Regions from separate parts of the Homo sapiens genome. Here all the other regions are linked to region 3. Evidence: fine-mapped expression QTL. A gene starts in region 3. Each other region holds a variant in brackets. All regions are shown on one strand. Distances are from middle to middle. Region 1 overlaps PRKCA (protein kinase C alpha). Region 2 has its middle 13 kb from the start of CACNG5. Region 3 holds the start of PRKCA (protein kinase C alpha). Region 4 overlaps PRKCA (protein kinase C alpha). Region 5 overlaps PRKCA (protein kinase C alpha).

What was found. PIP is the estimated chance that this variant, and not a neighbour inherited with it, causes the effect. A credible set is the group of variants that fine-mapping cannot tell apart.
Region 1: its variant is the best candidate, but not a certain one, in a credible set for the expression of PRKCA in whole blood (TOPMed, PIP 0.85).
Region 2: its variant is the best candidate, but not a certain one, in a credible set for the expression of PRKCA in prefrontal cortex (GTEx, PIP 0.62).
Region 4: its variant is the best candidate, but not a certain one, in a credible set for the expression of PRKCA in gastroesophageal junction (GTEx, PIP 0.60).
Region 5: its variant is the best candidate, but not a certain one, in a credible set for the expression of PRKCA in whole blood (INTERVAL, PIP 0.61).

The regions. Positions count from the first base shown.
Region 1 is chr17:66,385,875-66,390,978 of GRCh38, reverse strand. All of the region lies in intron 2 of PRKCA (protein kinase C alpha), which reads right to left. Among named protein-coding and RNA genes, the nearest start is that of PRKCA-AS1, 28 kb to the left of the region's middle. The variant C/T (reference allele first, on the strand shown) is at 2,879.
Region 2 is chr17:66,819,767-66,824,870 of GRCh38, reverse strand. No RefSeq gene overlaps it. Among named protein-coding and RNA genes, the nearest start is that of CACNG5, 13 kb to the left of the region's middle. The variant A/GCA (reference allele first, on the strand shown) is at 2,286.
Region 3 is chr17:66,299,952-66,305,055 of GRCh38, reverse strand. It overlaps PRKCA (protein kinase C alpha), which reads right to left and starts at 2,443. Exons shown (of 17, transcript NM_002737.3): 1 at 2,032-2,443. The coding sequence starts at 2,204. RefSeq lists an enhancer at 1,148-1,649.
Region 4 is chr17:66,446,015-66,451,118 of GRCh38, reverse strand. All of the region lies in intron 2 of PRKCA (protein kinase C alpha), which reads right to left. Among named protein-coding and RNA genes, the nearest start is that of PRKCA-AS1, 32 kb to the right of the region's middle. The variant G/A (reference allele first, on the strand shown) is at 2,695.
Region 5 is chr17:66,552,763-66,557,866 of GRCh38, reverse strand. The region is part of intron 3 of PRKCA (protein kinase C alpha); the gene reads right to left. Among named protein-coding and RNA genes, the nearest start is that of PRKCA-AS1, 140 kb to the right of the region's middle. The variant T/AT (reference allele first, on the strand shown) is at 2,137.

The sequences.
Region 1 (5,104 bases), 86 kb before region 3:
CAGGAGGGTCTGATTTCTTCTCAGCAGCTCTTTGGGGTTGCTGAGTTTCCTCTGCTACTTGGTTCCTTTGCTTCGCATGCTGATGGCCCCAGCGTTGACTCCTGGCTTGGTTGGATGGGTCAGTCTGCACCGCCCTCCCTCTCCAAGGCTGTGGTGGTGGAGCTGTTTGCCAACTATGGCTGCTCACCCCATAGGGAATTCTCTTCCGATGGCTTTGCAAATCAGGCTTCAAGTTGCAGACAGTGGAGAGGCCCATGAAGTCCCCATGAAGCTCCTTTTGTGCACCCCAGGGGGGTCACATAATTAAAAAGTGACTAAGGTATGACCTTTTGGGAACCAATGGTGGGATTCATCACCAAGAGGGTCAATTTGATAATCAGAGGGGAACTCTGAAATCCAAGTTCATGGCATCTCCTCTCCATTTTCCAGAAAATAACCGCAGATGCTACTGACAGCTCAGAGAGAGAAACACATCTGTGGAAATGGCTGGGCCTTTCTCTTTAAAATGGAGTGTTTCTTAAAAAACAAAAAGCTGAGCGAGAGCCCACTGTACACACTTCATTTCTTTCCTATATGGCTTTTTGTTAGCTCAGGAATATATTTTTCTTCTCAATATTATTTCCTATAACTATATTTTGACTATTGCAGCCAAAGAAGGATTAGTTTACATCATGATTATAAGCATCGCAGAATATAGGAAAACATATATATAAATTGCAAAAAGGTCCACTCTTCATGATTTTTTTTTTCTTTTTTGAGACTGAGTTTCACTCTTATTGCTCAGGCTAGAGTACAAGGATGTAATCTCAGGTCACTGCACCCTCCACCTACTGGGTTCAAGCGATTCTCCTGCCTCAGCCTCCGAGTAGCTGGGATTACAGGCATGCGCCATCACACCTGGCTAATTTTGTATTTTTAGTAGAGACGGGGTTTCACCATGTTGGCCAGGCTGGTCTGGAACTCCCAACCTCAGGTGATCCACCCGCCTTGGCCTCCCAAAGTGCTGGGATTACAGGCGTGAGCCACTGCGCCCGGCCTCTTCATGATTTTATGTTATTCCAAGCAACTTATTTTCACATGGATTATTTGCAAGTGGGTAAGCCATTATTCGTGTGCATTTTGCATGGGCAAAGCCCTTCTATCTCTTTCTTAAAAAGAACATTAAGGCTATGTGTAAGAATGAAATGTTAGGATCAATGATTTTCTCAACCAACATCAAACAATAGATGAACTTGATCAGCATGGTTCACAAAAGGTGATGCTCCTCAGCCAATCTCTAAAAGAACCAGTCGCATGTTTCAAACAGCACCAGAGCACCACAGAGCACGATGGGCATGCCAGACCCCCTCACTGCCAACCATCCTGGCCCAGGACAACGATGGCAGCAATGATGATGACAATGAAAGATGTTGTTGAAGACGATGCTGGCCATCATCTGAGGGCCCCATAGAAACCAGATACTTCCGGCATATTTTTCAATACAGTCTCTCCATTCCTTACGATATCCCTGCAAAGGTGTCCTTATGCAGGGGAGGCTACTGAGGCAGAGCCACTCTGGTCACAGAGCTAGAGACCCCCCAGGAGTCTAGCTGCGGTCAGCCTGAACCCCGCGTGCTGTTCCTCCCCATCCACTACGCTGCAGGAGAGGTCCTCAAGCCTGCCTCTGGGAGGCCCAAGTGAGTCGTGCTCCTCTCTTCCCTCCCCTTCAAGGCCAGCCTTTCTGTATTAAAGTGAAATTTAACGCCACAGATATTTACCCTAAGAACTCTCTTGGTGTGGGCTATTGTGAAGGGTGTTGCAGGAAGATGTAAGGAAAAGGAAAGCCACGTTTATCTCTGGTTAACCTCGTGGCTGCAAGTTGCGTGGGAAGGTGCCGCGCCGTTTTATTAGAAAGGCATATACATGATGCTGTTTCTTAAACAGAATCACGATGTTCCCATCAAGGGTTGAAATGAACCTTTCACCATCAATGTCCACGAATTCACGATTTCCCACAGCTTTTTCTTTTTCCTTCCACATCTCTATGTGTTTCTTTCCCAGTGAGGTCTTCGAATTAAACAAAAAATGAGGTCACCCTTCCCACCGAAGCAACGTACTGGAGTATAAAATGCAAGACACGGCTCTGCGGACCAATGACTTCTGGTACACTGTCTCCAACTCTGTGACCCACACAAGTGCCGTCTCTCCACGACCCTGGGTCTTTGTGTATAGGAAGGTGCAGCTGCCCCACAGTGCAGATGTGCAGACAAACCTCCAGGGCCTGTGAACCCCTAAACTTGCATGCACGTGTTTGGTAAGTACATCATGTATACTTATGGTGTGGAGAGGCCCATACTTTTCCCCAAATTCTCCAAGAGAACTATGGCCAATAAGAGCTAAGTATCGGCTGGGCACAGTGGCTCATGCCTGTAATCCTAAGCACTTTGGGAGGCTAAGGCGGGTGGATCACTTGAGGTCAAGAGTTCGAGACCAGCCTAATCAACATGGTGAAATCCCGTCTCTACTAAAAACACAAAATCAGCCAGATGTGGTGGTGCACACCTGTAATCCCAGCTACTTGGGAAGCTGAAGCAAGAGAATCGCTTGAACCTGGGAGGCGGAGGTTGCAGTGAGCTGAGATGGCGCCATTACACTCCAGTCTGGGCAAGAAGAGCAAAACTCCGTCCCAAAGAAAAAAAAAAAGAGGTAAGTATCGATGGACTCAGATATCTCTATCTTCAAAATTATTTGATTCTACAAAATAATGAAAGCATGTCTATGATTTCACAGAAAGCTAAAGATGTCATCCCTGCCCCTCCCACCCACATATCCTTGTTATGTCATGACACGTCCAGGCTCACGGATCTCTGCTTACTTTGGCCATTCCTGGATCTATCTA[C/T]GGTTTCCTCCCCCTGCCTCAAGCCCAGACATAGGTTTTCCGCTCTGCTATGTTGAAGCTGAGATAGCTATTTCAAAAAGAGATACTCCACACCAGGAAAGGAAAATGCCAAGGCAGGGAACAAAGGTCTAGACATCTTGAATAGGAACAGTTGGGAATGGACCCGGGGACAGCATAGTTAAGCCTGGGCACTGTGAAAAGAAATGTCCCACTCCAAGGTGAGGTGGGTAGGAATCTGGCAGGTCTAAAGCACAGGCTGGGAGGGCTCCAATCGCCATGTCAAGTGGCCTCCTCCGGCTTCCGGTCCACCTCTGCCCTACCCCTGCGGCTCCTTCTCAACAAGCTGCTCTAACTGCTGCGGGGCACCCCTGGGGAGCAGACAGGAATTCAGTTGGAGCCCCACAGTTTAGAGAGAACCAGGGGACTTTCAGGGACACACAGAGGATGATTACAAACTAAGAAGTAGCAAAGCAAGTGACAGCCCAGCCTACGGCTTCTATTGTTCTCTGCTAAAAGCCACTTGTCCCAAGAACCCCTCCCCTCTCAGCCCTGTAGGAAGGGCAAGATGAAAGGCTCCTTTTACTGAGCCATCAGGAGCCTCCACAAAAGATGCATCACTAATTCCAGAAGACAGGAGCTCTCCCAGGACACCAGATCCTTCTCAACTTTGTCAAGAGTCCCTCAGCTGCCTCTTATACTCACTTCTCTCTCTCCTAGTTTTCCTTTGCACTGGGGATGGCCAGGTGTTAGAGGTGATCTGACCCTGTGACAGAACCTGCTTCACCAGGTCCTGTATCCAGAAATCTCAACTTTTCTGCCCATGCTGCTGCCAAACATATTATTCATAGCTCAAGACAAGCCATCTACCTGCAGCCTAGCATTTCACTCGTTGCAGTTGCCCTCTAGCCCTACCCAGTGAAAAGGAACATTAATCTAGGAATGTTTTCCTGTTGTACTACAAGTTGATGTCAATCATCCACATGGCTCCCAACACTGTTCATTAAGCAGGATGTACCTGCCCATATGCAAATATCAAGCCCCATTAAACATGCAGGAAGTAACCTTTACTCTCTTAGTCAGGCACCTTGTTGCAAGAGAGAAACTCAAACACAAGTCTGAAGACCACTGAGAACCTTTACATTTTCACCAATTCTTCCATGGTAGGGCTGCACAAAGTGCTTATTATCACACCAGTATTTCATAAGATGTGTCATGACGTAGTAAGGCCAAGAGTAAAGATAAGTAGGAGGAAGTAATGAAGGAATGTTCTTGCTTTCAAGCCTTACATTAAAAGAAAAAAAAAAGGCTTTTAGAGGTTAAAAGTTTAATTACTAGTGGAAGAATAACTTGGTATAATGTGTGTAGGGCAACAGGGAGTATCCACCAAAATTTGAATTGTACATTTTTTGAACCAGCAGCCCAGCAATTCAGCATTTAGGAATTTATTTGACTGACTTACTCTCAAGTGTGCAAAGGCACAGGCAGCCATACAGAGCTAATGATCACTGATCACTCACTGTGTCCCAGGCATTATTCTGGGTATCATATGCACTGGCTATTTTATTCTACATACCCATCATATATTATTAATATTCCCATTTTACAGAGGGGAAACCTGCAGACATGAGAGATAAAGCAACTTGCTCAGAGTCGACGAACTGGCAACTGCTGGAGCCAAGATTCAAATCCAGGCAGTCAAAGGATATTCACTGCAGCTTTGTTTTAAAAAGGCAAAACACGGCATGTTTTTTACTTAAATGCCCATCAACTGGGCTCTGCTTAAATAAATTTTGGCACATCCACACAACGAAGCACTACTGAACAATTGCAAAATAAGTTATGTCTCTGTGCTGATGGTGAAAGAGGTCCAAGATCTATACTGTTAATGAAAAAAGCAAGTCTCAGAACTGTAGGATGATATAATGTAGGGCAGAGATACCTCAAAAGCAGTTCTTAAACGACACAACGAGACTTCAAAAGCGGTTACATCTGCAAAATGAACCTATAGCATGGGAAAAGAAACTTAAAAATAACTGTGCCTGGCTGGGCGCGGTGGCTCTCACCTGTAATCCCAGCACTTTGGGAGGCCGAGGTGGGCGGATCGCCTGAGGTCAGGAGTTCAAGACCAGTCTGGCCAACATGGCAAAACCCCATCTCTACTAAAAAACACAAAAAATTAGCTGGGTGTGGTGGTGAGTGCCTGTAATCCCAGCTACTTGGGAGGCT
Region 2 (5,104 bases), 520 kb before region 3:
TGTCTGCTAAAGTGCCAGGCTCCGTCCTGGGAGCAGGTGTTGGTAGTGTGTAATCACAGGAGATGCAGGGAGGGAATAGTAAAGGAAGAACGTTTTCTGGGTGCTGTTGATGAACCTGGTAATGAGTCACCTGGGCATGCTGGGGCCCCTCTGTGGCCCCCCCGGGGGGAAGAAGGGAGGTGCCACCCTACCCAGAAAGGGAGGATGGGGGATACTAGCTTAGATCTCACCTGGTCAGGTGTCTTCTGTGAGTCTGTAGGCATTGCCCAGTGCCAGCCCCTGTGGCCATAGTCAAAAGTTCCTGGCCTGGGTCAGGACCATTCGGTGTCTTCCCTAGACCTCATGAGTGCTGGACTCTGCAATGGGGTCAAGCAATTCTTCCACTGATGGCTCAAGACAACCTCAGAGGAGCGGGAGATACGACCTCTAACCCCTGCCTCTATTCCCATGGGTGGGGGGAGGGTGGAGACCCCCAGCTTTCCCCATGGGATTCCCGGGGATGGAGGACAAACCCTAGTGTCCCAGTCTTATCATGGTTTCTCAACCTCAAGACATTTTTTTTTTTTTTTTTGACAAGGTCTCACTCTGACACTCAGGCTAGAGTGCAGCAACACAATCTTGGCTCACTGCAGCCTTGACCCCCTGGGCTCAGGTGATTTTCCCACCTCAGCCTCTTGAGTAGCTGGGACTACAGGCATGCATCACCACACCCAGCTAATTTTTTTGTATTTTTAGTAGAGATGGGGTTTCACCATGTTGCCCAGGCTGGTCTCAAGCTCCTGGCCTCAAGCAATCTGCCTGCCTCAGTCTCTCAAAGTGCTGGGATTACAGGCATGAGCCACACCCAGCTCAACCTTAAAACTATTGATGTATCATTGATGGGGGCGGGACAGGATGGGGGTCGTGGTGCTGCCCTGTTCACTGCAGGATGGTTAGCAGCCTCTCTGGCCCCTGTCCCTCTAGATACCAGTAGTACCCCTTTCCCAACTGTGACAACCAAAAATATCTCCAGATGTTGCCAAGGTTGGTAATTGCCAGAGTTACCAGTGGGTGAAAACCACTGGGCTAGATGTTAACTGAGACTTTTTTCTGCCTACACATCTATCTGCTGGCTTCAAAGCAAGCGGGCATGGGGGTATGGCCCTATTGATATGGGAAAACATCTCCCCTGGCTCTGAATCCTGACGAATTTCCCTGCTAGTGAAAGACACAGACCCTCACCCCTTTTTTAGTTACTTAAGAGCAAAGTGTCTCACTCCACCAAGTCCTAATTTTCTTCCAAGGACATTATGGTCTGGTGTCACATGAGGACTGAGACTTGCTACTCTTACCATGCTCCTGGTGAAACAGCAGGTTAGTCCCTATTGTACTCATGGAGTGGCCCTCTCCCTCCAGGCCTCACTTTCCTTACAAAGACCCCGCAGTAACCAGCAGTGGCCATCCGCCAATAGATGCTTCTGGATCTCCTAAATGGCCTCTGAGAGAATGGGCTGGAGGAGGTCATTTCACCCTGCACCCATGTAAGGCAGATCAGCAATCTTTTCTTTGTTGTTCCAGTGAGCAAATTAAAAATCAGAGAAATTAAATGCACTCACACAGAGTCCATCAGTGAGTTTAAGACTAAACTGGAATTCATTCATTCAATGTGCCTGGCATGTCCCAGTGGGGTGGGGGTGACCCAGCTACAATCTTCCCACTGCAGGTGCAACATGTTTCTGGACTGTACCCCCGCTTGGTTCTCCAGGGGCATGGAGGTCATTTGGTTGGGAGGCTTGGATGGTCTCCTATGGAGACACCAGCCCCTGCATGTCATAGCAGGGATTCTAGAAACAACCTTGGGGAAAAAAAGAACATATTTCTCCCCCTTCTTGAGGGGTTCTCCACAGCCCCATTTTGCCCATTCTCATAGGTGGCCTCCTGCCCTGCCTTGTGACTCAGTCTCTCTAGGCCCCAAGATTAGAAAGCCATTAACTGTCCAGGGAAGCTTTAACCCAGAGGCACACCTGGGCCAGAAGGATGGGATTAGAGCTATTTGCTCCCCAGGGGACATTTGCCCAATGTCCAGAGGCACTGTGGGAAGAATTATCACTGGCATCTAGTGGGTAGAGGCCAGGGATGCTGTTAAGTATTCTACAAGGCATGGGACAGCCCCTCACAATAAAGAATAATGCAGCCTCAAATGTCAGCAATGTCGAGGTTGAGAGGCCCTGAAATAGATATGATATCAGAGTCACAAGCTTAGAGAAGGGGATGGGCATCTCCCAAAAGGTGAGGGGAGGTTGGGC[A/GCA]GGTGGCAGGGCTCTTACCAGAAGCAGTGAGGCAGCTTGCTGGGTGACCCTACAGCTGCTTTGGGTGGTCCTGGCTCATGACCATGACCCCGGGAGAGTTAATGGCTCTCTCTTGTACTTTCACACCTGTCCTGGTTTGGAATATAGTTATATATATAACAGTTAGTTATATAGTCACCCCACTGATAGGTGAGGACGATGTCCACTCCCTGGGTGGGCTAACGCTGCTGGACGAGGGGACAGTGTTCTGTTCCTTTGGAACTGCAGCAAAGCCTGGGGACACCAGGCTTCGAGTACCAGGTACCTGGGGAAGGCATTAGAACCTTCCCAGGCATAGAAACCACGTGGGGCCTTTGGAGTCAACTCACAAAATGATTACACTGCATTTTTTTAGTCTAATAAAATTTCCCGGCATCTCCTCTCTGGCCGTTTGTCTTCTCTCCATAGTTACTGGTTTTTGTTCTGTTTTGTTTTGCTATAAACTGCTCATGCCACAGCAGCGGTTTTCTGTCCAATATTCCCTGAGTAAGGCCCTCTGGAGAAACCACACAGAATGATGCTATCTCCTATTTGAGAAACCCTTGGGAGCTCTTTGATGTCGAGCTGATCTCCAGTTCATTCCCACAGGACTTTTGGAGGCCAAGAATGGCTCCTCGGAGTTCTCACTTGGGTCTCGTTGTGTCTCACAGGCTCTGCCTAAACCAGCCACTGGTAAGGAAAATGGAATTCCCATGACGGGCTTATGCCCAAGAGCATCCATGCCCTGGGGCCCTGGAGGATCCAGGGAGGGCATGGTTATCATAAATCAGCCCCAAACTGGAGTTCTATTAGCAAGAATTTAGGCTCTTTCCAATGACCTGTGAAGTAGATATAGCAGTTAAAGCATCCGCCTAGCAGAGCCCTTCTCAGAAGGGATCTCCCTTTGTTCATCTCTTTGATGACGGGATGGGCAAGGTGGCCCTGTTTTGTGTCAAACAGCTTGCTCCGCTCCGCCACAGATGAATGGACCAGACATGGGAGCCTGACCCCTGACAGTAAATCCAGCCAACTTGTCAGTGACCGATGACATGGCCGGACCCACACATGCACCGGGCCATAGGATTCCCTCTCTCAGGGCAAAAGTACCAGGTGAGACCCACTCATCAATGGACGCTGATGTGAAAAGCATGATCAGAGGCTAAGGAGGGGCCAGAAGAAGTTGTGGTCGGTTGACCTTTTGAGAAAATGCAGGCTGGGGAGGAAGAAATGCACCAGGAGGTTAAAGGTTATATCCTGTGTGCTTCCATTTATATCACACTCCTGAAATGACAAAATTACAGTGATGGGGAACAGAGCTGTGGTTGCCAGGGGCTACGGTGGGGGGTGGGGCAAGATGACAAAGGGGTAGCATCGGTGAATTTCTTTCTGGATAGAAGAGTTCTGGATCTTGATTATGGTGGTGGTTACATGAATCTATACATATGATTTCATAGTCACACACACACACACACACACACACACATAATGAGTGTATTGTGTATGTAAAACCTGGTGAAATTCAAATAAGGCCTATAGTTTAGTTAAGAGTATTCTAACCCCATCTCTATTTAAAAAAAAAAAAAGAAATACAAAAAAGTTAGTCAGGCATGATGGTGCTCTCCTGTAATCCCAGCTACTCCGGAGGCTGAGGCAGGAGAATTGCTTGAACCCAGGAGGCAGAGGTTACAGTGAGCCGAGATCGCACTGCTGCACTCCAGCCTGGTGGGTGACAGGGCGAGACTCCGTCTCAAAAAAAAAAAAATTCTACTGTGTCCCTTTTCTGGTTTTAATAATGTACTAATGTTAAGTAAGGTGTTATCATTGAAGAAGCTGGGCGAAGGGTACAGGGGAACTATTTTGGCAAATTATTTTGAGTCTTAAATTATTCCAAAATAAAAAGTTCCAAAAAGAGAAAGAGGCTGAGGAGCTTACATGAGTGAGAGAAAAAAAATCCATCTCCCAGAGCTGCCTTGGCTCTAGAGATTTCCAGCCCAGAACTGCCTTGGCTCCAGAGATTTCCAGCGCCAGCCCCTGGTTGGGTCCATCTGTGTTTACTGCCACCCAAAGAGGCGGAGCAAAACAAACATCTCGTACCTAAGTCTTTGGTGCATTTTTGGTTATTTCTTTAGAGGAAAAAGATCCCCCAAAGCAGAATTGCTGTGTGTAAGCACATTTTTAAGACTCTTGTTACTTAGTGCCAAATTGCCCTCTAAAAAAGATTGTACCAATTTATATTCCCACCCACAGGGCATGAGAGGGCAGACTTTCCCAATTCTTGCCAAAATTGGGATTTAATCTTTCAAGAAAGCATATTTTCTGCCAAGTTAACAGATAAAAACATGGTATTTCATTGTTCTTTTCCTCCAGGAATTCTAAATTCTTTTTTTGGACCAAGTTGGACTAGATAATTGGTTATTTACCTGGAGACTTGGGTTGAGTTTCTTGGTCGGTCACCTTCATGAAGTTGTATTTTAATATGCCCCAAACTTGACGAAGAACACTAAAAAAAGGCTTTATGAAATTTGATAGTGCATTTATTGTTTCAACAAAACTTCAAAATGTTGTTGAGGACATCATTTCTGATATTGCTTGGTGTCTTTTCTAGGTAATAAAATTATACTCAAGAAATTCCTTTTGGATTCAGTGCTAGGAAAAGCTTTATTTCCCAAAGGAACACATATGCTTCCTCTTTTCCAGTAATGACAATCACATAAGTGACCATGGTTCCCACTTTTATTGGCTGTTAGAAAATGCAAAGCCAAGTTTGAGAATCAACAACAGCAATTTTGTTGACTCTTGCG
Region 3 (5,104 bases):
TGGTGGTGACCTGAGCGCCTCTTCAGCTCACCAGGGGCTGATCCTTCAAGGGCAACTGATAGTGGAAAGACAATAGCTAGCCTCAGTATGCTGCAAGTCCCTTTCTAACTCTCCTACTTCCTGCAAAAGTCACCAGCAGTCTGTTCCCTTTTAATGGACTCTCACAGCTGACCTCCTCTTAACCAAATGCAATATTCTCTTTGCCCTGATGCTCCGAAATTTTTATTTTAAATAGCCTTATCTACGACTACCTACTCCTTTGAGCACAGTCGCTTCATATGCCGACTAGACAGTGGAAATCACTCATAGAGGTGGCTGTGCTTTTCATAAAAGTGTACTTGGGAGCAGATGTCTAAAAAGGAAAGGAAAAATTAAACACCTTATTCGCACCACGATCATGGGACCTGCCCTTTGGGATGTTTTTCCCCAGGTGTGATGGATTCCGACAGAGCCATCCATACTATGCTCACCCTAGTGGCCCAAGATACCTGTGCCACACAGCTGGCTGGTGGCAGGATTCACTCCGTGACTGCCACCCTGTGCAGCTCCCCCTGGCCTAGAAGGAGAGGGAGCTAAGAAGCCCTAGCCATAGCTCTGTCTTGCCCGGAACTTCCTACACCACAAAGAAGAGGTAGAAGAGTCAGGACGTCGGGCAACTTAAAAGAAAAACCAAACTACTGCTGCTCTAACTAGAGGACCTAGAGCTCCTTTAGTTCCAGCTTTCAAAACTTTTGTGTGGTGACGGGGATCTGGGAAGAAGGGTCACACACCTTTTGAGGATCAGATGAAAGCTGTAATTCTCTCACCAGGAAAAAGATTCACAAACACAATTTCCCTCAGTTTTACAGGGTTCAGAGACCCCTGAAGCCCTTCTATGTATCGATTCTCCATAAGCCCCCAGGGACCCTCCGAGTTAAGAATGCCTGAATTCATTGGCGATTACCTGATCTCTGACCTCTGGCCCTTATATTATTTTTCTTAAATAAGGCCTCTGCCCTCATCAACAGGGTTACAGGTCTAATCTCGAGTTGACAGGGTCTGTTTCATTTTTTTTGAGACGGAATCTCGCTCTGTCTCACCCAGGCTGGAGTGCAGTGGCCCGATCTCGGCTCACTGCAGCCTCCGCCTCCCGGGTTCAAGCGAGTCTCCCGTCTCAGCCTCCCGAGTAGCTGGGATTACAGGCGTGTGCCACCACGCCCGGCTAATTTTGTATTTTTAGTAGACGGGGTTTCACCATGTTTGCCAGGCTGGTCTCGAACTACTGACCTTAGGTGATCCGCCTGCCTCGGCCTCCCAAAGTGCTGGGATTACAGGCGTGAGCCACCGCGCCTGGCCGACAGGGTCTATTTTAAATGAGTCCCTCTGCCCTTGTGCCATTTGCCTGCTAGAACTCCCCCTCCCCCACTGCAAGCTTTCAACAGTTTGCTCTCTCTCTCTCTGCTCACTCAGAAAAGTCAGTCTCTCCGTGCCCAGTAGATGCAGCCTACAGTAGGCAGGGGCCCAAGATGCCAGCGCAGTCCAGCCCGATGGGAAGCACAAACACAACCCCCCCACCCCGAACGCGCCCAGCCTGGCTCGCCAGCAACTTGGACCGCGCGCAGTGCAATCGCCGCCGCTCCCCCGTTACTCCGGGGCGCGTTTCTCCGGGAACCTTTGCCCCCTTAGGGCCTCTCCTCCTCCCCTGTCCCCTGGGCTCACACCCCGGCAAGCGGCCGCTCCGCTGGGTGCGTGCGGGTGGGCGCGCCCGGGGAGGTGAGGGGCCCGGCCCGGAGAGGGATCCCCTTCGCCACCGTACGGGGCCAGCCTCCCTCTCGCGCCAGGGGGTGTGTGTGGCGGGACGGCGACGTCCCGGGAGTCCTGCCCGCCGGTGTCAGGGCCGGGCGCGCGTGTCACTCCGGGCGAAGAGTTCGGACTCCCGCCGGTTCCAAGTTATCGGAGTGAGCCAGCCCCGGGGCGGACGCGCCGGAGCGCCGGGTGCCGGGACCCGGAGGCGGGGAGGAGCGGGGCAGGAGTGCCCGGCCCGGCACCTACCAGATGAAGTCGGTGCAGTGGCTGCAGAAGGTGGGCTGCTTGAAGAAGCGCGCGATGAATTTGTGGTCCTTCACCTCGTGCACGTTCTTCTGCCTCAGCGCCCCTTTGCGGGCGAAGCGGTTGGCCACGTCCTGAGACGCCGTGGAGTCGTTGCCCGGGAAAACGTCAGCCATGGTCCCCCCCAACCACCTCTTGCCTCCGCCGGGGAGCTGCGGCCGCGGAGGGCCGGGTGGGCGGGGGCGGCGGGGGAGAGGTGCGGGCTCGGGGCGACCCCGGGCGCGGGGCGCGGGCCGGTGGCCGAGGTCGCGGCGAGGGGGCGCGGCGGGGGCCGGGGAGAGTCGGGCTGGTGCTGCGCGGAGCGGGAGCGGGAGCCGGAGCCGCTGGCTCGCCCGCTGGCCCCAGGCTCACTGACAGCCCGGTGCCCGGCGCTCGCGCTTCCTACTCGCGGCGGCAGAGGCGGCCCGGAGCGGCACCGCCCACCGCGCATGCCCCGAGCGCGAGGCCGCGAGGACGAGCGGCGGGGGCGCGCGGGCCGGGCGCGCGCGGGGGTGCGGCGAGGGTGCGGCGGCGGCGGCGCTGAGCGGACCGGACCGAGTGCGGAGGAGGCAGCGAGTGCCTTGCGGTGCTGGGAACACTGGGCAAGGGGAGGCGGCGGCGGCGGCGGCGGCGGCGGCGGCGGCGGCGGCGGCGGCCGGGGGAGGGCCGGCCCGAGTGGGGATGCGGGGGAGGAGGCCGGGAGTGGCGGGTCCGCGCTCCTCCGCCGCCTTTTTCTTTCCTCCCCTTCCTGCGCCCGGCTCTCCTCCCTCTCGCCCTCCTCCGCCTCAGTTCTCCTCCTCTTCTTCCGCTCTTGCCGCCCGGCCTCCTCCTCTCCCGGTCTTCCTTCTCCCACTCCCGCTCTCTCTCTTGTCGACGGGCTCGGAGTCCTGCGCCACCCGTGCCGGGCCGAGAGGAGCCCGCGTCCGGGAGTGGGCTCCACGCGCAGCCCCTGCCCCGGAGCCTCCCGCCCGGTGCTCACCTCCTAACCCCTCAGCACCCGCAGCAGGGAGCCCCTTCCCCATCCTCAGGACCCCCGGTGTCTCCAGGGCACGACGCCCGTGTTTTAGCTGCCTGTACCAGCTTGAGGTTTCACCTGGCCAAAATGTCACTTTCATCACGTGTGCACTAAAAGACCTAGCCCCTAGACCTTCCTACAGGAGGAAGAGAGCGATTTTTAAATAATTAAGCATTGACCCTTTCCCCTACCTTCTCTTCTTGACCTATACCTTATTTCACCTGCGTGTGGTAGAGACTTTTAATTTGTACGTCGGGCATTTATCACCACGTGGGATGGTTAAAGGACTTGTCTTAGGTATTTATCCCGTTATTCAATGGCCACCAGAGCGACGATGTTGATTATCAGGCTTTCTTGATTTTACAAGTCCAGGACCTTAATTTAGAAATCATTTTGCATCCCAAGCTAATTACTGCAATACTGTCAGGTGCAGAGTGCAGCCAGTACGTTTGTAACTTACCAAGTAAAACTGCCTGTGAAAGAGTAGCGGGCATGGCTATGCAAAGGACGCAGGTGGGGATGCACCAGCTAATCACTCGCTGAATATTTATCAGGTCTGCCTGGAGGCCGCTAAAATACATAAGGGAAATAATCATTTCTCAGCGTTTCATTGGTGTTTTGTTTTATTTGCCAGATTCACGAAATCCCCAAAACGACTTTACGAGCTAAAGAGACCAAGAAAGAGAACACGTTTGATCCTTCAATAAATTTATGTTGAAAAAAAAAACTTTTCTAAAATACTTTCTTAGAGCATGTAACATAGGCCAAGTAGAGCTAATATTGTTTTCTTTGAGATTGCCTAATTGTGATGCTTGATGATAGGAATGTCCTTTATATTTTTAACAAATGGAAGCTCTCCTGACTGGCCGTCAGTGGTGCATGCACTTGACTGATCCATTTACAATCTCTTGAGCCAGTCTTGGTGCTTCAAGAGCCTGCACCTGCCTGGTATTCTAGCTGGTCAGAAATTTCGCCACTCATGGTCGCCCCTCGGGTCCAAGGAGTCAAAAAGGGAAGAAGCAAAGAGGAATGAAGAGCAGGGCATGTTGGGGAAATAGTCCCAATTCTCCATGAAACACTAGAAGCATCTCAAGCCATGGTGGTTTATTGCTTGAAAGCAGAAATCAAATGGAACATAGTGGAATGAAATAATTTCTTTTCTCATAGTCGTCTTTTATCTAAGACGGAGATCCTGGCACATTTTACAAAGACAAGCTTATTTCTATGTCCCTGAGGCTTTCATAGGAGGATGGAGAGAGCTGGAGGGTGAAGTTGCTGATAATGGAATCCTGAGTAAAGTCATAGGAAAGACAAGAACAGAATGAGCCCTGGCAGCAGCCTGCGAATCTCCTGTGTACTCCATGGAGTGACTGTCTTAGCTGTCAGTAGATCAGATGGAACAATGTGTCTGTTTTCTTTTAGGTTGTGGCTTTGCATTCTTGCCTCAGTTGTTAGTGTTGTTCCTGGTGGGTACGAGGAGGAATGATTGACTGGAAGTCAACTGATTCATGGTTGGGCTGGGCATGAAAGCATCAATAGCCCACATCTTAGCTCAGTTGGGGAGAGGGGACTGTGCACCCAGAGTGGGGATTTATCAATTACCAAGCAGTGTAACACTGTCCCTAGCAAGGACTGATGGAAATGTGGGCCAGCATCTACTCCTGCAGCCTACCTGAAGTCCCCATGGTATAACTAAAATGGAGGAGATTAAGGACGGGAGAACCCCCTGGGTTGGGGGTAGTCAGTCAGTCATGAGGGCATGAGTAAATTTTATTTTCGAGTCTGCTATTTCATGGGGAAGGTGCGGGAAAAGAACAGGGAATGTCAGACTGAACGCAGAGTTTTTCAGAATCCGCTTCTGTCCTCTGCCTTTGAGGAGTAAGCTCAACACTGTTTGGAGAGGTGTCACCTAGACCAGGGGGACCCAGAGGCTGGAGGCTGGGATCAAAGTCAGACCACCAAACAGATGACTCAGAATCCCAATGGTTTGAAGCCAGCGGTCTTTCAGATACAATTTACAGC
Region 4 (5,104 bases), 150 kb before region 3:
TTGGTTAATAGAGTCAAAGAGAGAACAGAGATCCACAGAACATATTCACTTCATCATTTCTTTATAGATCACTGGAAACACACCAAGTCTTCCTTTTCTTCCATTCACTCAACAATCTTAACAGAGAGACAGAGTGAGACCCACAGAGCAGGTCATGTTACTTTCAGCAAAATTCTAGAACTTCACTCAGCAGTAAACCCCTGCATCACAGTTCCAAACAGTGCTATTTTCATCAAAAGTTAAAAACCAAAATGTTTTACTAATCGCATCAGTTAGCGGTTTTAAAAAATAATTCAGCACAGCTTATGAAGACAAATGTACTAGTACAGGGGCCCATGATTGCGTAACCAAAACATCAGAACAGCATGAGCTGGTACCAGCTTTTGCGGTAATTACCTTCTGTGAAAGCAGACGCCTACCCTTCCCCAAAACTGTCCCTGCAAAGAGAGTGTTAAGTGTGTGGATGAAAGTCATCCGGTAATAACTAATCCACAAGAGAAAAAGTGCACCTGTGCTGAGGTCTTCTTCCAACCGCAGCTTTCTGTTTCCTCCCCTGCCTCCCTTTTCCTGGGACTTCTCTTTCCACCTGCATCCCACCTCACTGTGGAGGCCTTCTGTGAACTGTGCACCCTCTGACCACACACCTGTGGGACATGGCCGTCTTCAGGTACCAAAGATGGGGACCCACGTTCATTCATCAGACTCTGTGAAAGGCATTTCTAACTCGTTTTACTTAGCACTCAGTACCACCCCTCTGCGGTACCATTGCCCCTACTTCCAGACAAGGAGACTGTGACTAAGAGGGACTGTGTCTCTCTTCCACCAAGCTGTTCCAATTCTTGCAGACTGGCTGGGGCATCCCTGCTCTGTCCTGTGAACTTGGCTCTGCTGGCCCCCGATGAGCATCTCTCTCTCCAGAACAGGAGGTCTTTGAGGTCCCAGCATGATTCCCAGCATGAAACAGGAACTCCACTCAGTATGAGTTAACGATCTTGTCAAAGGTCACCCAGTTAGTATGGGATAAAAATGTAATTCCAAAGCCTCCACTCTTTCCAATGACATTCTATTGTGGCTATAAACAATGCTTAAAAAAAAAACAAAAACAAAAAACACTCCCACTCCCCAAGGTATACCTCCTTGAAAATGAACATGAAGCAAAATAAGAAATCACTTCTTCAAAGTAATCAACGTGTACAATATAGGCTGCTTCCAAACTGAAGCGCATGGCAGAACAAAACAAAACAAACAAAAAAACAACAACAAAAAAGCTGCCTACACCTGAGGCCGTTCGTCCAGCATCCAACCACGGTGGGAGATTTCACTCCTCCCACCACTGTCTCCACCTTTACACAGGCGCTGCAGGTGCACACCCAAAAACAATTACAGCAACAACCTCAGCCCTGGAAGCCAGCCCCCTGTCCTGGTCTGTGTAGTCCCTCTGACTTGAACACTTGATGTTTGGCTCATAGAAGGAACAGCTTCAGACACAGGGGCCTTTTCTCCAGACTAAACTGTACTTGACTCACATGTAAGGACATTTTGTTTGCATTTAGTGCTGTGCTAGGGATCGTGAAGATGAGCTATCTGGGGAGAGGAAAAAAGGCTGAGGATGTACTACTGGTTGGGCAGCGAGGTTCAATTGAAAGAATATAAACAAGAGCAGTGTTATACTTATTTGCTGAAATAATTTTGCTGAAAGTAATATACACACTTTTTTTTTTAAAGGCAATATAGCTAAGGAGTTACCAAAAAATTCCTCAATCTCTCTACCTATCCATTCACTTTAAAGCTCATGCTTTTTTTGCTTTTGTTTTGTTTTGTTTTGTTTTTTTGAAATAGGGTCTTGCTGTTGCCCAGGCTGGAGTGCAGTGGTGCTATCGCTGCTCACTACCACTTCCATCTCCTGGGCTCAAGCAATCCTCCCAGCTCAGCCTCCCAAGTAGCTAGGCCTACAGGCACATGCCACCACACCCAGCTATTTTTTTAATTCATTTTTTGTACAGACAGGGACTCACTATGTTGCCCAGGCTGATCTGGAAATTGTGGGCTCAAGCAATCCTCCCACCTCAGCATTCCAAAGTGCTAGGATTACAGGCATGAGCCACCTCACCTGGCCACCTTTTTTTTTTTTTTTTTTTAAGTTTAGAGTTTTTCAAAGCTGGACCTACTCTCTTCAAAATACTATGAATACTACAAAAAAAAGTTGAGCAAGACTGACAGATTCAATAAGTTTAAAAAACTTTTAGATTTTTTTTTTTTTGCCAGAATCTCACTTATGCCTGTCCACAGAGGCATTATTTGATACCATTAGACTCACTTATCTAAAGCACATTTTGAGGGGTAAAACTGAATGAGCATTTTCATTGATTGCTTAAAGGGATGTGTGATGTTGCTGAATTTTTTTTGGTTTGGTGTAAATCAAATCATATGTCAAGAGTCAGGGAAAGCCACAGTGAATTCTTCTGAAAGGAGAGACTTTCCTTATAACGTGAATTATGCACTTCTAATGTTATTTTAATCACTAAACTTGGATTTTTGTGTGACTTTATTTTAATATATACTATAAAGGGTAGGCACAGCATATACACAGGTTTCTAAAGTTTAAAAGCCTTTGGAGGATGGGAGTTCACTGCAACGTGTCACCCTCATTACGCATAGCAGTTTAATGGCATCGAGCCTAATAGGGCTCAAGAA[G/A]AGCCTAACGCAGCCAAAACGACACACAAACTTCCATCAGGCGTCTCGATTTCCGAAACCAATTTTCAGGTATCAACAAGCTCCAAGGCAGCAAAATTCATCATTCCCTTTAACAGATCTCGTTTTTCCAATACTATGTTTATTAGGGCAGACTGCAATGTGACAAAAATGACTAATGATCCACGTTTTCCTAAGGTTTAGAAGTACAAAGTCCACACTATGTTATCAACAAAACAAAATAACAGCACGATATCAACTTGTTAGCGGAAAAAGGGCACAGAATACACAGAACACAAAGGCCATCTTTCACCACGATTCTATTCTAAAGAACCTAAGCTTTCTACTGTAATTTCAAGGATTTAATTCCATTCAATCTATTCACTTTTGAGTGCTCCTAGATACCAAGGCAAATAAGGCAGTCTTACCTGTCGATACCCACTGCCCGACAGAAGCAGAAAAATAACCAAATAACTACACGACAAAAAGGGTCCACACACGATGCTCTGGAAAGGAGGCACAGGAGTCCCTAGTTCTGCCCAGGGTACCCAAGTTTGGTCTTAGCCAAGCCCTCCAGTAAACAAGAAAGAGAAAGAGCATCTCAGAAGGAGGAGAGCCTAGACGTGAGGAGGTAGCCACATAGCCCCAGGTGAAACTGGAATGAGCGGAGGTGGGGATGGAGCACAAAGGGCCAGGGGGCCCTGGAGGCTGTTGGAAACCACCTTTGATGACAGACTCCTAGAAGCTCAAAGGAGCTTAGAGATGGTCACACTGAGTCTAGGTTTCCACATTCAGCAGCACAGTCCAGGTCCAGATCTCTAAATTCAGTGCTTTATGAACGCCTGTCATCTATGCTACCACCCTGCTCTTTTAACAACTCACTCCCCCAGTTAAGCTGCACTTTAGCAAGAAAACGCCATCCCACATTTTACTATTCAAATTACTGAACCGATGGTCCAAGGTGGCTACTCAGAAAGCACTAAGGCCCCGTGCCTTTGGGAGTGAGGAAGGTGTCTCCAGAAGGTGTCAGCTGCACAAGAGGACTCCCCATGAGTCTCCGGCTCAGAACTCGCCTGGCATCCCCGACCAGCCAAAGTCGCATGCAAGAGGCTGAGGGAAGAGCTACTCAGAGGACAATGAATTGGGACTACAAAAATCACTCCCTTCTTTCAAAACCCCAAGGCCTCTCTCACTCTGTCACCATCCCGTATACATCTTAATGGTATGACACTTCCCTGTCTACACATGACTGACATTTTCAAGTCCCTGCCAAAACATTCTCAGAAAGCTGGTCCTCTACATACAGAGAGCTCTTACACTCGGAGTGACTTCGCAGTCTGTCTTTTGATGGCTTGATATCGAAGCGTTTCCGGAACTATGCTAAACTACTTCTTACACTGGAAGGGAGTCAAGAGTGAATTTCTCCAGGTGTGAAAAGGGATTTGAACACACAAGTGTACTGTCTTTAGAAATCGCTGGGTGACAAAAAGCAAAGCAAGCTAGAAGTTTTTATGCTCAGAATTCAGTGCAAGAAAATAACTGCCCTGACCCCTCCAACACACACATACCCTGACCAAATCCTCTATTCCTCTAAGCTGTCTCTTTGCTTTTTAGATCTAGGGGATCACTAGGGCCCCAAGATCCTCTTCCACTGCAGCCCAGGGGTACACCTCAGTTCTAGAGGCTACCGGGGTCCTCAGCTTCCTGACGTTGAGTCATAGGTAAGACTGAACAGGGCAGTGCTGCCTTGGAGGGGTTTAAGTGTGCAGGCCCCTCTCATCACAAGCAGCAATGAGTCACCAAAATGTACAAGCCCACCTGGTGCTCAGTGGAGGCAGCATTCATAGCCCTTGACCACAATCTAGATGGGGTTCTGTCTAAATTTAGCCACATCAACAATGCAACTGCTTATGAAAAACAAGCCCCATTTAAACAGAAGTAGTCTGAGTATCCTTCTGGGTCTGGACAGAAGACATTGAAAATGCCTGGCATATTTCTTGAGCAAGGCCAATGAGGAAGAAGAAAATTGTTTCCATCCTGGAGAAGGTGAATGGGGGTGCTGCACCTTAAGGCCCATGTCCCACAACCAGGCTGGCCACACCAAGGACAACTGTCTCCACAGCTCCTGTGGTCTTCTCAAGAGGTGGGAGTGTGAGTGTGAATGTGTGAGTGTGTGTGTGTGTGTGTGTTGGGAAGAGAGTCTATCATTTCATAAAACTAGAAAACAGCACCTTCCCCAGAGGCAACATTTCAAATCACAGAAAAGACCAGAGTTCTAAAACTCACCTTAACTTCTAATTCAAAGAGTCAGCCAGGCACTTTGGCTGGAATCAAGCCTGTAATCCCAGCACTTAGGGAGGCCGAGGTGCACGGATCACTTGAGCTCAGGAGTTTGAGACCAGCCTGGGCAACA
Region 5 (5,104 bases), 250 kb before region 3:
TATATGAGCTCAAAACACTGCTCTCTGGCTAACACCCCCTCACAGGCCTGTAGAAAATCTGCCCAGATGGATTTTACCACTCAGAAGAAAACAGGGAAAAAGTACTGGCAAAAAATTCTAGGTTTTGGAAGTATGGAGAGAAAAGCAGCACTGATAGTATTGCTGAAGAAAACCTTTGTGGGCTCTACTATAAAGCATCCTAGAAAAGGCATTTATTTGCCTTTATTAAAATTCTTCAGAAAAGTACCCGTCCCTCCAATATAAAACATGAATCAGATTTTGGTACCTATTACATGAGAGAGCAGTTGCACCAACAATTATGTTGAATTTATTCATTCGAAAATCCTAATGAGTAATCTTTTTCTTGAGACATTTTAAGACTTGCATAATTCATTAGACTGTGTACATCTTTTTTTTTTTTTGCACAGGTTTCGCACCCATTCAAAGAGCAACTGTGGGATCATGAGTGATATGTCTAAGAAATGTCAAGCAGGAAATCTATTGTAAGTAGAGTGCATGAATAAAATATATTACTAACAAATTTAGAATCGTAATTTGTATCAAGTTGTCTGTCTCTGTGCAACTTGCTTCACAGAGAGAAGTCTCTGAATAATTCATTATGTCCTTCCCCAAGGCCCTTAAAAAAATCAGAAACACTGTAGATAATATTCTCTCCCTTAAATGAGAAAACAATCACATAAATTATCAAGTTAGATAGCCCTTCTGGATCCTACCTATCATTCCATTTCCAACCAGTTGAAGAAATTCCCTCTCAGCGCAAGGGGAAGGTGGTCACTTGGTCTCTGAATCTAGAGGCTCAAAACTTCATGAAACCATCTAATCCAACTATCAACAGCTCCAAACTGCTGGCAAATTTGCTCCTCCATTGACCCAAATTGCTTTCCTTATCCCCTATCCTGATGCTGTGGGGTTCTTCCCCGGGGAGTATCAGGTAGTAGTGTATTAGTCCATTCTCATGCTGTTATAAGGACATACCCGAGATGGGGTAATTTATAAGGGAAAGAGATTTAATTGACTCACAGATCCACAGGCCTGGGGAGGCCTCAGGAAACTTAAAATCATGGTGGAAGGGGATGCAAACATGTCCTTCACAAGGCGGCAGGAGAGAGAAGAATGAGAGCTGAGCAAAGGGGGAAGCCCCTTATAAAACTGTCAGATCTCTGAGAACTCACTATCATGAGAACAGCATGGGAAAAACACTGCCCCCCATGATTTAGTTGTCTCCAACTGTTCTTGCTCTTGATACAAATCAAGGTGAGATTTGGGTGGGGAAACAGAGCCAGACCATAGCAGATAGCATACCCTCTCCACATTCAACTGCCTTTCAAACATCTCATGAAAGCTTTGAGGTCTTCAAATGTTCTCTTCTTTTGGTTAAATATTTCCATTTCTTTAGCTCCAGGAATCAACATTTTCAATAACCTCTTTAAATAATGTATTATGGACTAAAATGAAATTGCATAGCTGTTGTCACCTAATGCCCATGAAGACTATTGTCTTGACCAAAAAAAAAAAAAAAAAAGAAGAAGAAAGAAAAGATTATTCTCAGAGCACAGGAGGTTAACTCATTTGTTTTAAATGACTCCAGGTACAAATGCATATTTTAGTAGATGTTTTTGGTGATGATGCTAAAACCTTGAATTTTTAAAGTGCCTTTCAGTGAAAGGCCCAAATGTGTTCAAAATGGAAAGCATCCAGGTGGTAAACAGAAACTCGATGCTCAAAGGTGCAGCTCAGTCAAAAAGAGCTCCAGTCCCAGGGAGGAGTCCCCATGGCTGGCTCGCCCATCCAGAGCTCACCTGGATGGATGAATGGCTTCCTTTTCACAGAGCATCTTTCTTTAAAAAGAAAAAAAAAAGTAGTAGAGGAAAATGCATTTGACAAAATAAATGAGAAGGCTCTATATTTAACGACAGGAACAAAAAAATAATTAGTAGCACGCATTGCCAAGGTATGACACATGAAATACCTTTTGTGACTTCTTGGATTCCACACATCTTAAATAGCAACTGGAAGGGAAACCCTTCACCTAAGGACAGTCTAAAATTGCTATGGAAACTAACAGTTTGTCAACTGTGGTAGTTCATAATAGAAGTCTCAGCAATAAAAAAAAAA[T/AT]TTTTTTTTAAACCTGCAATCCAAAGGCTTCTTGTCCCTGTAACTCAAATAAGAACCTGGGTGGAGTTGTTTTCCAGTAGTGTAAGTGGCTCTTAAAGGATAATCTAGGCTACAAGTTGTCTAGAAATTTCTTGGATGAAGTTAGAAACTAGGATTTCTACAAGATATACTTCCAAGGAGGGACATTTGTAAAGAGCATTTATTACACTGGTGGGGAGGCAGCAATCCTGCTTCTCTGTTCAAAGGTGCCCAAGTGAAGTGGGGAAGCGTGTGGCACAAAGGAAGTTAAGGAAGAACGAGGATCCTCCACAAAGATTCTGCAATATGACAGAAAAGCATGTTCTTGGTGGTGAAGGATCTGCAGGTGGCAACTTCCATAAAAGAAGCCACATGTGTGTTGTAGCCAAGAAGTCTGGTTGCGTGGCACTCCATCTGCCACACGCAACAATCCAGAAAGAAAAACAGCCCTTCATAAGCAAGCATTGCATTTAAAATGCTGTGCTGACTGCACAGAAAGATACGATACCTGCCTTCAAAGAATTTACAATCTACTGGCTGGGCGTGGTGGCTCACGCCTGTAATCCCACCACTTTGGGAGGCCGAGGCAGGTGGATTGCCTGAGCTCAGGAGTTCGAGACGAGCCTGGGCAACAGGGTGAAACCCCATCTCTACTAAAATACAAAAACTTGGCCGGGCATGGCAGCGTGCGCCTGTAGTCTCAGCTACTCGGGAGGTTGAGGCAGGAGAATTGCCAGAACCTGAGGCAGAGGTTGCAGTGAGCTGAGATCGTGCCACTGCTCTCCAGCCTGGGCGACAGAGTGAGACCCTGTCTTTAAAAAAAAAAAAAAAAGAATTTACAATCTACTTAAGGTGACAACGTGGAATCACAAGTACAATGGGATGGCATCAACACAGTACTACAAGTGTTTAGAGGCAACAGATAATCCCAACTGGCTGATCCATTCCTGGGGCAAGGAGAGGCCTCCTCTTCAACAGAACACACAGCTTGGGAAGCCAAGAGGAAGGACAAGGCTGTTAATGGGGCAGTGGATGTCATAACCAAACTCCCTTCACATCCATAGATTTAATTTATTTGCTAGTGCCCCCCACCAAAAAAAAGTCCTTTAAAATTAACAGGTCACCCACCTTACCTTCGGAGAGTGAGTAGGATCTCAAAAGGTAGAGGCAGACTAGCAATACAGGGGAGAAGAGCTGTAGGTAATAGAAATGATGTGAGTAGTCACGGGAATGTTCTCTTCCAGCCCAAAGTTTGAAACACAGGCCCCAATGGGAACAAGAAACGTGTCATAGCGTGATTGGTAATGGAGGCTCTAAAAATCTTCTGGGTCAAGGAAGCCTATTGCAGGCTTTCTGACACACAGCCTGGGCTCCATGGCTCCACTGGGACAAGTTCACACCTGATCCAAATTTGAACAAGTCCAAGGCTATTTTTTGAGAAATAACTTTTTTTCTCTCGTTTTTTTTTTTTTTCATAGAGACGGGGTCACACGATGTTGCCCAAGCTGGTCTAGAGCAATTCTCCCACCTTGGCCTCCCAAAGTGTTGGGATGACAGGCGTGAGCCACCATACCTGGCCAGCAAAAAGTCTTAACTCTGCCCTGGCAGGCTCACTTCTGAACACAGGTGTCTTCTTTCTCTTCATGCCAATGTCTGGTGCCCAGTTCTTCACTTACAGGTCTTGTACTTCTCAGCCCCATCATTTTAATAACCTCATGCTGTACCCCAGCCTCTGAACCACTTTAGCTGTCCATCACCCTGTCTGAATTCTACCCCAAAGTCCAAGGTTCAACACTGTACTTTCAAGGAGACTCTCTGGATCACCCCGGCCACACACTTCATCTCCTGAACAATGAGATGGCACCAGCTTTCTCTACTGCTTAAACACTAATGAGAGGCCATGTCTTACACGTCTTGGTTCCCTCACAGGCCCTGGCACGGTACCTGAAAAATGAAAGGATCCACTTCCAAGATGCTTCGCTCATGTCAATGTCAGCAGGAAGACTCAGTTCCTCACCAGCAGCTCCTTCAAAGGCTGCTTGAGTGTCCTCACGGCATGGCTGCTGGGCTTCCCCAGAGCAAGTGATCCAAGAAAAACAGCAATGAGGAAGCTACGATGCCTTTTACAGCTATTCTCAGAAGTCACACACTGTCACTGCTACCATATTCTATCCATTAGAAGCAAGTCGCGAAATCTAGTCCACACTTAAGAGGATAAGAGTTAAGCTCTTTACCTCTGGCAGGGAGGAGTATTCAAGAATCTGTGAAAATATTCCAAAACGTCAGTAGGAGAGCTCAGGGAACACACAAGAGGAAGGAAACTACCTACCAAAGATCTTTCTAGCTATGGAATTATTTATTTGCTAGAGAAGACATTTGATCCAATCTCATTTGAGCATAGGGGAGTCACAATTTAAAAATCATTCATCAGGCCAGGTGCAGGGTGGCTCACGCTATAATCCCAGAACTTTGGGAGGCTGAGGCGGGTGGATCGCTTGAGCTCAGGAGTTTGAGACCAGCCTGGGCAACACGGCAAAACCCCACCTCTACTAAAAATGCAAAAATTAGCCAGGCATGCTGGTACAAGCCTGTAGTCCCAGCTACCTGGGAGGCTGAGGCAGAAGAATCGCTTGAACCCAGGGGGCAGAGGTTGCAGTGAGCCAAGATCACACCACTGCACTCTGGCACCAGCAACAGAGTGAGACTCTGTCTCAAAAAAAAAAAAGAAAATATTCAGATTTTTATAAAATGTAGTTCTTCTAGCTGTCTAGATTTAGATGTTCTACTAAAAAGACATACTTGGGTTCATAAAACTGGTAGGCTCTTAAAACAGTTGTGTCTATAGTGTATTTCATCATACATGGCGGGAGGCGGCATCTGACATGGCTCTCAGTGCGTCCCTGCCTCCTGGTGCTCATGCCCTTGTGTAGTCTCTCCTTGAGTGTGGGCT